Homo sapiens: one gene and its partners. The protein of the gene in region 3 interacts with the protein of the main gene of each other region in a pairwise test. Each region holds a gene or a part of one and is shown on either strand. Other genes may lie near its edges. The genes, in order: PRPF39, CALD1 and QKI.

Region 1 (3,658 bases), on a different chromosome or scaffold from region 3:
AAAGATATTCTAAGTGGTATACAGTAATAATGGAAATATTTTTATTGTGCTTGTGCATTAGGCTTGTACCATTGGATGTACCCTGCACATTATCTCTGAGATAATGTCTAATTTAAATCCTTCTTTAGCATGAGGACTTTGTGATCTGGTCTAACATCCAGGTCCAATCCCTGGTGGTTCCTGAGCTCTAGACACACCTAAGTCTGATAACTTCCCAAAGGGCAGTGTTGTTTTATATCTTTATGACTGTAATACCTTTTCCTCTTTCCACTTGTCTAGTGGACTTATATTCCCTGAGACCACACAGTTTTGTGTCTTCTCTGTGAAATTTTCTCTGGTTCTCCTATACTGAGATACCTAGTCTGTTATTTGTGCCATGACTTTACCTACATTTATTTACATTTATATTAGCACCAGTAACACTGCTTTGAATTTATGTCTCTTATATCCTCAACATGCCTGTCAGTTTCTGAGGCTTAATTCTTTGTATCTCTAATATTTAGGAATAGAGCTCAATATATATTAGGCAGTCAGCCAGTCTTTACTGAATAAATGTTAGCTTTATAATACAAAAAACTGCTGAAAAAATACTGCTTAATATTATGCACATTTTGTCACTGTTTTAAAGAAGTTGTTACATGATGTAGCAATAAGTCATTTTAGATTTATGTACTGTATGTAGTTATTTTGAAATTTTACCTTAAGTTTTTAATTCATTTGTTGACCATTCTGAGTTTTAATATTCATCTGTAATTAAATCTGTTTTTTCATACTACATATTTGAGAGTTACTTCCTTATTTTTAATTTTTTAACATAAGGCAATCTTTGTTAATTTTTTTCCACCTGGTGCTGAAATGGGCCGTTAGCCTCTGTATCCATTGACTTTGCAAAATTTAAATTAGATTCCAATGTTATTTATATACTTTTTTTTTTTTTTTTTTTGAGGTGAAATCTCGCTCTGTTGCCCAGGCTGGATTGCAGTGGTGCAGTCTTGGCTCACTGCAGCCTCCACCTCCCAGGTTCAAGTGATTCTCCTGCCTCAGCCTCCCGAGTAGCTGGGATTACAGGTGCCCGCCCCGACACGGAGCTAATTTTTGTATTTTTGGTACAGATGGGTTTCAGCGTGTTTGCCAGGCTGGTCTCAAACTCCTGACCTCAGGTGATCCGCCCACCTCAGCCTCCCAAAGTGCTGGGATTACAGGCGTCAGCAGGCGCCTGACCTGTTTGCTTACTTTTTAGTAACATTTCTGATAGTAGTATAGAGGTGGGAATGGGAGTTGTGAGACTAGAGGCTGCAAGGTCATTTTATGTTTATCCAGCTTAAAAGTCCCGAGGTGATGAACATGTATTTAAAAGGTACAGTCAGTAGGACCTGGTATCTAATGTAAATGAAAAGCTAGGTGGAAGAGATTGAGAGATGTAGTGGTTGACAGTACCATTAATCAATATTAGAAATGCTGAGGGTGGCGGGGCACGGTGGCTCACACCTGTAATCCCAGCACTTTGGGAGGCTGAGGCGGGTGGATCACCTGAGGTCAGGAGTTCGAGACCAGGCTGCCAACAAGGTGAAACCCCGTCTCTACTAAAATTAGAAAAATTAGCTGGGCGTGGTGGTGCGCACCTGTAATCCCAGCTACTTGGGAGGCTGAGGCAGGAGAATTGCTTGAACCCGGGAGGTGGAGCTTGCAGTGAGCCAAGATAGAACGATTGCACTCTAGCCTGGGCAACAGAGCAGGACTCCATCTCACACAAGAAAATAAAGAAAGAAATACTGAGGGTATTCATTTTCAGATGAAGATGCCATACTTATTTTAAAATATTTCATATTTGAGGTTCCAAAGGTATATTCAAATTGTGATAGTGTAGATATTTTAGCTCCTCAACCTGGTATTTTTGATTACAATTTGTATGTATACAAATTATTGCATGTTTTTATAAAATAGTGAAATGATATTTTTTTCAAAAATCTTTTTATAGATTAGCTTAAAACTAATCCACATTTCTTTGTGCAGAGTATTGGCAGTTGTATATGCTAATGTGATTAGGAGAAAGGTTTGGACTTGTGTTGTAGTTTTGAGAGTCATCATGGTATACTTATTTCAAGCTGTATGAATGAGATTGGCCAGAAGTATGTATTAATAAAAATAGATGAGAACCAAATGGAGAGTGGAATACTTGGGTATAGTAGCATTTAGGGCAGGTAAGAAGGGGAATAAGACATAGAGCAGCAGTCAGAGGCTTGGAGGACCATACTACAAAACAAGTGTCCATTTAATTTTATATATGAGGTAATTGATAATCTTAATTGGGCAGTTTCATTGGATTTTTGCGTACTCACATGTGGATGAGGAGTATTTGGGAGGTGGGAAGGAAATGCTATATTTGTTGGTTATTTACAAGTGATCATTTAGAATTTAAATATGGATTACAGTATTTAATTTTACTGTAACTTTTATGTCTTTGTAGTAAAATAGATTCTATGACACACGAATAGGTATTATCATCTTATTTTACAATTGAGGAAACTAAGATTTAGAGAAAAGAAAACCTTCCCTAGTCAGATAACCAGTAACAGACAGAACTGAGGTTTGAATTTATGCCCGTCCATGCCTTCTCCATTCCACTGTAAAGGTAGGAAGAAATTGAAGATGTCTATAGACTGTTTTATCATATGGTAGTGTTTTATCATATATGGTAGGATTTTACTATAGAAAAGAAGGAGAAAAGGTATGATATTTTGGTTTCTTTTTTAAATCAAATCCTTTGAAAGAGTAGTATATAGTAGGAATCTCAATATGAGATCTAAAATTATGATTCAAATACATATATTTTTATTGTCTTCCTTTAGATTTAAAGAACATGTACAGAATAATTTGCCTAGAGATCTTTTAACTGGTGAACAGTTTATTCAGTTGCGAAGGGAATTAGCTTCTGTAAATGGTCATAGTGGTGATGATGGTCCTCCTGGTGATGATCTACCATCGGGAATTGAAGACATAACCGATCCTGCAAAGGTAACCAGTCTTATTCTAAAGTTCGTCAGTGGCCAGGTATGGTGGCTTATGCCTGTAATCGCAGCACTTTGGGAGGCCAAGGTAGGCGGGTCACCTGAGGTCCGGAGTTTGAGACCCATGTAGGCAACATGGTGAAACCCTGTCTATACTAAACATACAAAAATTAGCCAGGTGTGGTGGCACATGACTGTAGTCCCATCTACTTGGGAGGCTGAGGTGGGAAGATTGCTTGAACCTGGAAGGCGGAGGTTGCAGTGAGCTAAGATGGCACCACTGCACTCCAGCCTGGGCCAAAGAGCAAGACTCCATCTCGGGGGGAAAAAAAGGTCTTTAGTGCAGAAGAAACTGGACCTGTTATCCCTTGACTCCATGAGTGGCACAGTGATCACTTATATAACTGGCCATTTACCCAGTGACTTGTAGCTTGTTTGAAGTTAATTTCTGATTAAGGCAAGTGGGGATTCAGTAGCTTGTATGTATAGATTTAAGGTAGAGAATCTATTTTACTACAAGACACCCCAAAAAAAACTTAGCTTAGAAGGAATATTTTGCCTAGGTTGTGTATCTACTAGCCCAATTTAAGAAAAAAAGAAAAAATATGAAAGTGGTTAATTAGGAAGTTGTGTGATAAGTTTTAGTGTTG
Region 2 (3,658 bases), on a different chromosome or scaffold from region 3:
GGTTCCTCAAAAAATCAACAAGAGAACTACCACGTGATCCAGCAATCCCACTTCTGATACACTTCTAAAAGAATGGAAAGCAAGGTCTTGAAGAGACATTTGTATACCCGTGTTCATAGCAGCATTATTTACAAGGACCAAGAGATGGACGCAACCCAAGTGTCCATCATAGCAGGAATGGATAAATAAAAGGTGGTCTAGCCATACCATGGAATATTATTCAGCCTTAAAAAGGAAGGAGAGGCCGGGTGCAGTGGCTCACGCCTGTAATCCTAGCACTTTGGGAGGCCGAGGCGGGCGGATTGCCTGAGCTCAGGAGTTTAAGACAGCCTGGGCAACACAGTGAAACCCTGTCTCTACTAAAATACAAAAAAAAAAAAATTAGCCGGGCGTGGCGGCGTGTGCCTGTGGTCCCAGCTACTCTGGAGGCTGAGGCAGGAGAATTGCTTGAGCCCAGGAGGCAGGGGTTGCAGTGAGCCGAGATTGTGCCACTGCACTCCAGCCTGGGCAACAAAGCGAGACTCTGTCTGTAAGAAAAAAAGAGAAAAAAAAAAAAAAGGAAGGAGATCTTGTTACCTGTTACAACATGGATAAACCTTGAAGATACTATGCTAAGTGAAATAAGCCAATCACGGAAATCATACAAATATTGTGTGATTCCACTTATATGAGGGATCTAAAGTAGTCAAATTCATAGAGACAGAAATAGAACTGTAGTTACCAGAGGCAGAGGGTGGGCGGTAGCAGGAAATAAAGAGTTGCTGTTTAATGGGTGTAGTCTTTCAGTCTTGCAAGATGAAAAGAGTTTTGGAGATCTGTTGCACAACAATATGAATATGCCTCACACTACTTAACTGTACTTTTAAAAATGCTTAAGATGGTAAATTTTAGGTGATGTTTGTTTTTACCACAATTTTTAAGAAGATACATGCTACAACATGGAAAAATGGGTAAATACTATTTATTCTATTTACCTCAGTGGGTTGCATGGGCTTATGTATTATATCAGTATGATATCATACTGATATCATACTGATATACTATAATTTCTATATCATCTACAGTATAAATATTAGTTGTTATTAGAAAGGGAGGCATGTAGTCCAAAAGGTTACTTGTGAATGAGTTCAAAAGTCTTGTAGTGGCCTTACTAGTCCTTTCCCGTAAGTTACTGGTTAACTTGGGTCTGCCTGGAGTAATGGATCAGGAGGGAAGACAGAAAGGTTCAGGCGCTGGGAATGGGAAAAAGTGGCTGTAACTAAGGGTAGGCATTGAAGTAAATCCATCTGTCCACAACTGTGCCTTGAGCTTGACTCTAGCAGCTGATCTCTGGCAGACGAAATTACCCATTGCCTCTTGATTAAGAGCTAAACACAGTGATTTATGTCTATTCTTACAGAGCTGCTCCAGGAAAGTCCTTAATGACTGCATTAACCTATGGCTTCAATTTGTGAATTTTCTATGCTCTTTGACCCCAATACAACTGGAATACTCCTTATACAGACTTAAAATTATGAAATTAGCTTGGTATGATGTGGTTAAGGTTATTACTTACATGTCATTCTTTATGCTCTCTAAACCCTTTTCATATCCACTACTTCATTTAACAGTCACAATAACTGGGAAGATGTCAGGTTAGGTTTATTATCCCCATCTTACAAACAAGGAAACCACAGGTAAGACAGAGAATAATATACTCAAACTTTTGGAAGCTAGAAAGCAGTCGAGCCATGATCAGATTCTAATGCTTATCTATTAGTTGTACTCTTCTTGTAACTATAATTATACCTGAAATTAAATACGTTTTGTTATGAAACAATGAATAAACTGAAATAGAACATGTTATTCCATCTCTCCACCTCTTACCTCAAACCTTCAGGATAGAGTCTGAGAGAAGCGTTTCCTACCTCTGTCTCTAGAGTTTCTACAGTCTAGGTCTAGCTACCTTCCGTGCCTGAGATGAAGCAGAAGCTTCATCAGGTAGAACAGCTTATAAAACAGGAAGAAATGGGTACGTTTTTATGTAAGTAAGAACTAAAATTGAAATTATGTTGAATTTTCTTTTGTGATTAAGGAGGATACACAGGGATTTCATTGCAGAATTGGGAACATATTAAGACTTCAGACAGAATGCTATCCCAAGAGTCCTTATGGTAAAATTTTATTTTGGAACTGGTATTTTTAGTATTTTACACAACTATAAAAAGATGAAGACATATCATTAGCACCTACTGTGACCCCTGAGTTTCTTTAATAAATTTACTGTATGATACAGTTAGAACACTGATAATTTTAAAACATGTCGATACTCAAAGTAGAACTTCAGTAGAATGCAGAGTTTTCACTAACACAGAGTTCACCTAAGTTGGATTTGCCTGGGACTTCACTAAGCAGAATTTAGTGGCTTAATTTAGGCTTGAAGCCCTTGTTATAAGTAGTCTTTAAGAGACAGAGATACAGCTTTGCCATTTAAATACTTATTAGCAAGTAGTAAGGTCATTCTTAACTAGATGTCAACGTAGATATCCTATTCCTGACACTTTTGTCTAAGGAACAAAGGAATTATCACACCCTAACATCATTTACTACATGTAAAGAATGGTACAGTGTTTCTAGCTGTGAAACAAGAGGAAGAATAAAACAAGAAATGGGCTCAAGAAATACACTGTGCAATATTGATTTTATAATATATATATGTATATTATATATCATGCTTTTTAAACACTGAAGTAGTTCTGAATATCCTGTGTCCTCCAGAACAATAATTTTCAAGCTGCAGACCAGAAAATCAATTTAGTAGATTGTAATCAACATTTAAAAAAAAAAAAAACAGAAAATATCAGAGTGCACTGCATAGAGCAAAACAAAGTACCATTTCTTGACACACTTGTTTCAGTTATAAAAATATATACAGGTGTGTACTGGGTCATTATGTAAAATTTATTTCTTACTAAGGGCTTAGGTTAAAAAATTTAGAACTATTGGTCTAGGCTCATGCCAGTTACAGGTAAACTTTTATTTTGAACTCAAACAAGGTTAAAGGGTCCCTCAAAACCTTGCTGTCAAAGGCTCTTTCAGGGTCTTCTAGGTTCACAGGCCTGTGACTCCTCTCTCAGTCAATTTAGGGTCTTTCCTTCCAAAAATGAGTTTGCTCTCTCTTTGTGTTCATCATATTACTGTACAGGAACTGGACCGGCAAAACACATGCCTATAGAAACATCTATGGATTCCACTAGGTGTCACTCAGTCTTCATTTTGGACAATCAAAATGTCCGTCATTAGGGACTGGCTAAATAAGTCCTAATACATCCATCCAGTAGAATCTAATATCATTAATTATAGGCTTATATTTATTGGCATAGAAAGCAAGCTATGACACATTCTTATGCACAGTGCAAGAATCAATGTAAAATTATAAGTATACTCACACACGTATATACTACATATAAATATACACACGTGTGTGCATTTATCTTGAATATTATATACATAGATAAATATCTGGAAAAAGTGTTACTGCTAGTTATCTTTGGGTGGTGGGTGCTTATTTTTATTCTTCTATTTTCTGAGCGTTTTTATAATGAGTATTTTTTTCTATAATCGGAAAAAATCTTTTAATTTCTACCTTCAAAAATAAAAAATCAAAAAACCATTTTGC
Region 3 (3,658 bases):
TAGACTCAACACCAATACTTACTGATGACAGACCACTTCTGGAAGTGATATCAAACTTTTCCACTTTATTTCATTTAAAACCAACTTTACTGCTAGTAGCCCCCGAACTGATGCCTGAATGATGTTCTGGATGAGGCATATGTATGTTTGATTTGCTAATCTAGCTTTTTTCCCTGAGACTCACATTTAACTCTTAGTTTCAGGACTTGCATTGCGTTCCGCTCATGAGCTTTAAAGTTTTACATTTTCCCGCCACCTAGGAATCTAGAAATCTAGAGTCAGTTTAAATTCTGGACAACTTTTTAATGCTGTTTTACCTCAGTGAGAAAGCAATGAACAAAAGCATATTAACATATTATCATTTAATTAAAATGTATTCAAACCAACTTTCAACTTGTACTACCAGTATGTCTTAATTTTATAAATCAATCATTGAAAACAATGAATGTAATAAGGGAAGCACTAAAATTCAGGTTTCAAGCACAGCCAAGGCACTTTCCTCATTCCCAAGCTTGACAGTTCTAAGGTAAAGGAGTGAACATAAAATCTTTAGTATCAACTCAAATAGTTCTGCAAGAATTGTGGATTCACTTGCAAATATTTTCTTCTCCTTTTGCTCTTCATCATTTTTCTTGTAATAACCTTTATATTAATATCCAGTTAAGTAACCAATGAACATAGTATAGCATACTTTAAAACAGACTACAGTAGATTTTCATCCCAATTTTAGGAGACACTCCTTAAAATTGGAACTGTTGTGTAGCATGTAAAAATAAGCGCTTTCAGAGGGTATACAGTTCACAAAATAGCATTAAACTGGAATAATCTAATTTTAATAAACATTTTTTGGGGAAGATATGATGCCAAACTTACCATGACTATTATTTTAGACATATGTATAGTACAACTATTAGATGGTCAATTAGTTTAACTGCTTTCTAAAGACCACAAATTACTGTATAAAAGGGGTAATCATTAAAAATTACGTTAGGAAGGAAATCCAAATGTCTAGTGCTTCCATTCACTTAAGCACTTCTGTAAACATAAGAACACAATGTGCATGAGTAACAGTGACTAAAATATTCATCTGATTTTTCAGGAGGAAAAACATCAAAACTGATTTTATGTCACCCCTTTTGAGAAGCTGGTTTGAAAGTCAGATCACCATCCTGGACCAGGAAACAAGCACAGATATCCACAGGAGCCAGAGAGCCGGGGGGAAGGATTAAAGCAAGAGAAGAGTAAGAAAATCAACAGCCCAAGTGTGACACTAGAGACAGGAAGGAGTGGTGGGGTGGCGACTAACCAGGGAATACTTGGCTTCAGGGGACCGTTTAATTACTCAGTTTCAGCTGGTGCCTACTATGTTAAGAATACATGTTTGGGCTTTCTAGACACTTTGATCTTTCAGGAAGAGCAGATTTTGTGAAGAATTAAAAAAAAAATCTAATATGGGCAATCAGACTTTTTTTTTTTTAAGTCTAGTGTTGCCACTTTTAAATTATGGCAAGTAGTTTAAAAAGCAAAACACCGTATAAGCCAAACCAAACACACCTTTGGGCTGCTAGTCTGCACGACGGTGCTATGGATCCTGCAACTGTGGGCTACTTTAACAAAGCATTCTGTTGAGGAAAACTAAGGTTCCGGTGAGCAAGAGGAAAGGAGCCAGAGGTACTTGGAGATGATATAAATAAGAAAGACTGGAAAACTTAAGGTACAAGGAGTCATAACATTTAGATGTTAAAGACTCGTAAAGGTTTCACACTACTGGAAATGATTTTTTTAATAAACCAATTCTGTTCAACAGGTTAATGACACTAGTCCTTTTCATGAAGCTGATGAAATCAAGTTTTGGTCAGCATTCCTTTCTTCTTACATTCGAAAACTACATAAAAACTGTACCATTTATTAAAGATAAAAAAATGTTTTGGATGCACAGTCCAACTATGGAACACTGTAGCAGTCTGTTTACTAATCTCCCTTAATGGCTAAAATCAGAGTGAATGTTATGCTCATTTTCTAATGTTATAATAACTCCAGAATGTCAAATTCTTACATTTTCTTTTAAATAGTGTTGAAAGCCTCAATAAAATTGAAAGTGTGCGTTCTTTATTCTCATATTGATACATGCATTTTCTGGGGGTGGAGGATAAGCAGCACTTTCCAGCTGCAGTTGGCTTGAGAGGATGAAGCACATGCACTTTTTCCAGTTGGTTTATTGCATTTCATGTACGGTCATGCAGTTCTCCGTTCACATGTGACCTGTGAACACCTATTTCGACTATATATATATATATACACAATTTCCACAGTAAAATTTTAAATGTTTCATACATACCACTACAATATAAACCATAAAAGATATATTTGGTAATAAAAACTTAATAGCACTTTTAAGTTATAAATTAACTTTTACCCTGGAAGCTGAGATCTTCCCACAATGTGGTGTCTTTTGCCAAGAAGAGGCAACAACATTATAATGTGGAATCAACACTGTGGCTGCCCTTTGCTGCACCTATCGCCTCCTTCTACTATGAATTAATTCATTCGCCTTCTCCCCCACCCCCTGGCAATTAGTGCAGCAGAAACACAGAAACGAGAGGACTGTGCTGAGGTTAACCAGTTTGATTCCACATTGAAGGCACGAGTGCATATAATGTTGGTAAATCTCTTCATATCAAAGGCATCTCAATTTAGATCACTTAAACTACAGATAAAATTAGATGTGTAGCACATATTTCTAAAATATTGTCCATATTTTTTCCATTTTAAATAAAGGTATTAAGGAATTCGTGACAATGTAAAAAACTACTCTATGCACTTAGAAAAATTGTGAATTCGAAAAGTTGGAGAATAATTTTTGCTAAATAAATAATCATTTGGCAGTAAGTTCTATTCTACCTAAAATAATTTGCTTGAAATGCTGTAACAGCTACTTCTTATCAAGGAATAAAGACAGGCATCACATCCTGGTCAAACATGCAAAACCACTCCCACCCCACCCCATCCTAAAACTAAAGAAACCTTAGGCTGTCACACGTGAAAGTGTTATGACATATATATATACACACACGTATATATATGAAGAGTCTTGATTTGGTAGTGAGCAATTTCATTTAAACCTATCGTTTGCTTTTGGCACACTAAAAAATTCAGATCCTTATGTAGTGTTTAGAAAACCATAACCAGACACCGATTGTGTGTACGTATGCACATCCTGGTTTTATGGGCAGGGTGCCTTCGTGACCTCTTACACCTGGAGCTACTGCACTGGTGCGTATGGGAGTAACTACTTTCATGTTAAGTTTTCCCTGACATTTTGCCTAAAGGAAAAGTTTAAGGACATTAATTTCACCAACTTCTTGACTGAAAGCTCAGCTTTCAACTGTTTTGTCAAATAGTTTCAATCAATCAACTGACTCTAGAATTTTACTATTCTTGGAATTTGGTAGTTTCATGTTTAATATTGTAACCTGTATAAAAATGAAATCTGTAATGTTATTTTCGCCTTTTAAAACTTTTTTACATTTCCTACATAAAAGGCAGCAATGACATAATTATACATAAAGTACCCTTAACTGAAAATGAGATGAGGCTGCATTCATAGGCTTCAGAGAATAGTAAATTGCATAGAAATTCATCAATTTAAGTTACATGG

Evidence for each region.
Region 1: the proteins of QKI (region 3) and PRPF39 interact in a two-hybrid assay, tested with the Homo sapiens proteins (one large-scale study listed by BioGRID).
Region 2: the proteins of QKI (region 3) and CALD1 interact in a two-hybrid assay, tested with the Homo sapiens proteins (one large-scale study listed by BioGRID).

What each region holds. Positions count from the first base shown.
Region 1 is NC_000014.9:45,104,602-45,108,259, forward strand, and holds part of PRPF39 (pre-mRNA-processing factor 39), read left to right. Parts: intron 1-2,849; coding exon 2,850-3,015; intron 3,016-3,658. UniProt on the Homo sapiens protein: Involved in pre-mRNA splicing.
Region 2 is NC_000007.14:134,943,571-134,947,228, reverse strand, and holds part of CALD1 (caldesmon), read right to left. Parts: intron 1-3,658. UniProt on the Homo sapiens protein: Actin- and myosin-binding protein implicated in the regulation of actomyosin interactions in smooth muscle and nonmuscle cells (could act as a bridge between myosin and actin filaments).
Region 3 is NC_000006.12:163,575,217-163,578,874, reverse strand, and holds the end of QKI (KH domain-containing RNA-binding protein QKI), read right to left. Parts: 3' UTR 283-3,658; downstream 1-282. UniProt on the Homo sapiens protein: RNA reader protein, which recognizes and binds specific RNAs, thereby regulating RNA metabolic processes, such as pre-mRNA splicing, circular RNA (circRNA) formation, mRNA export, mRNA stability and/or translation.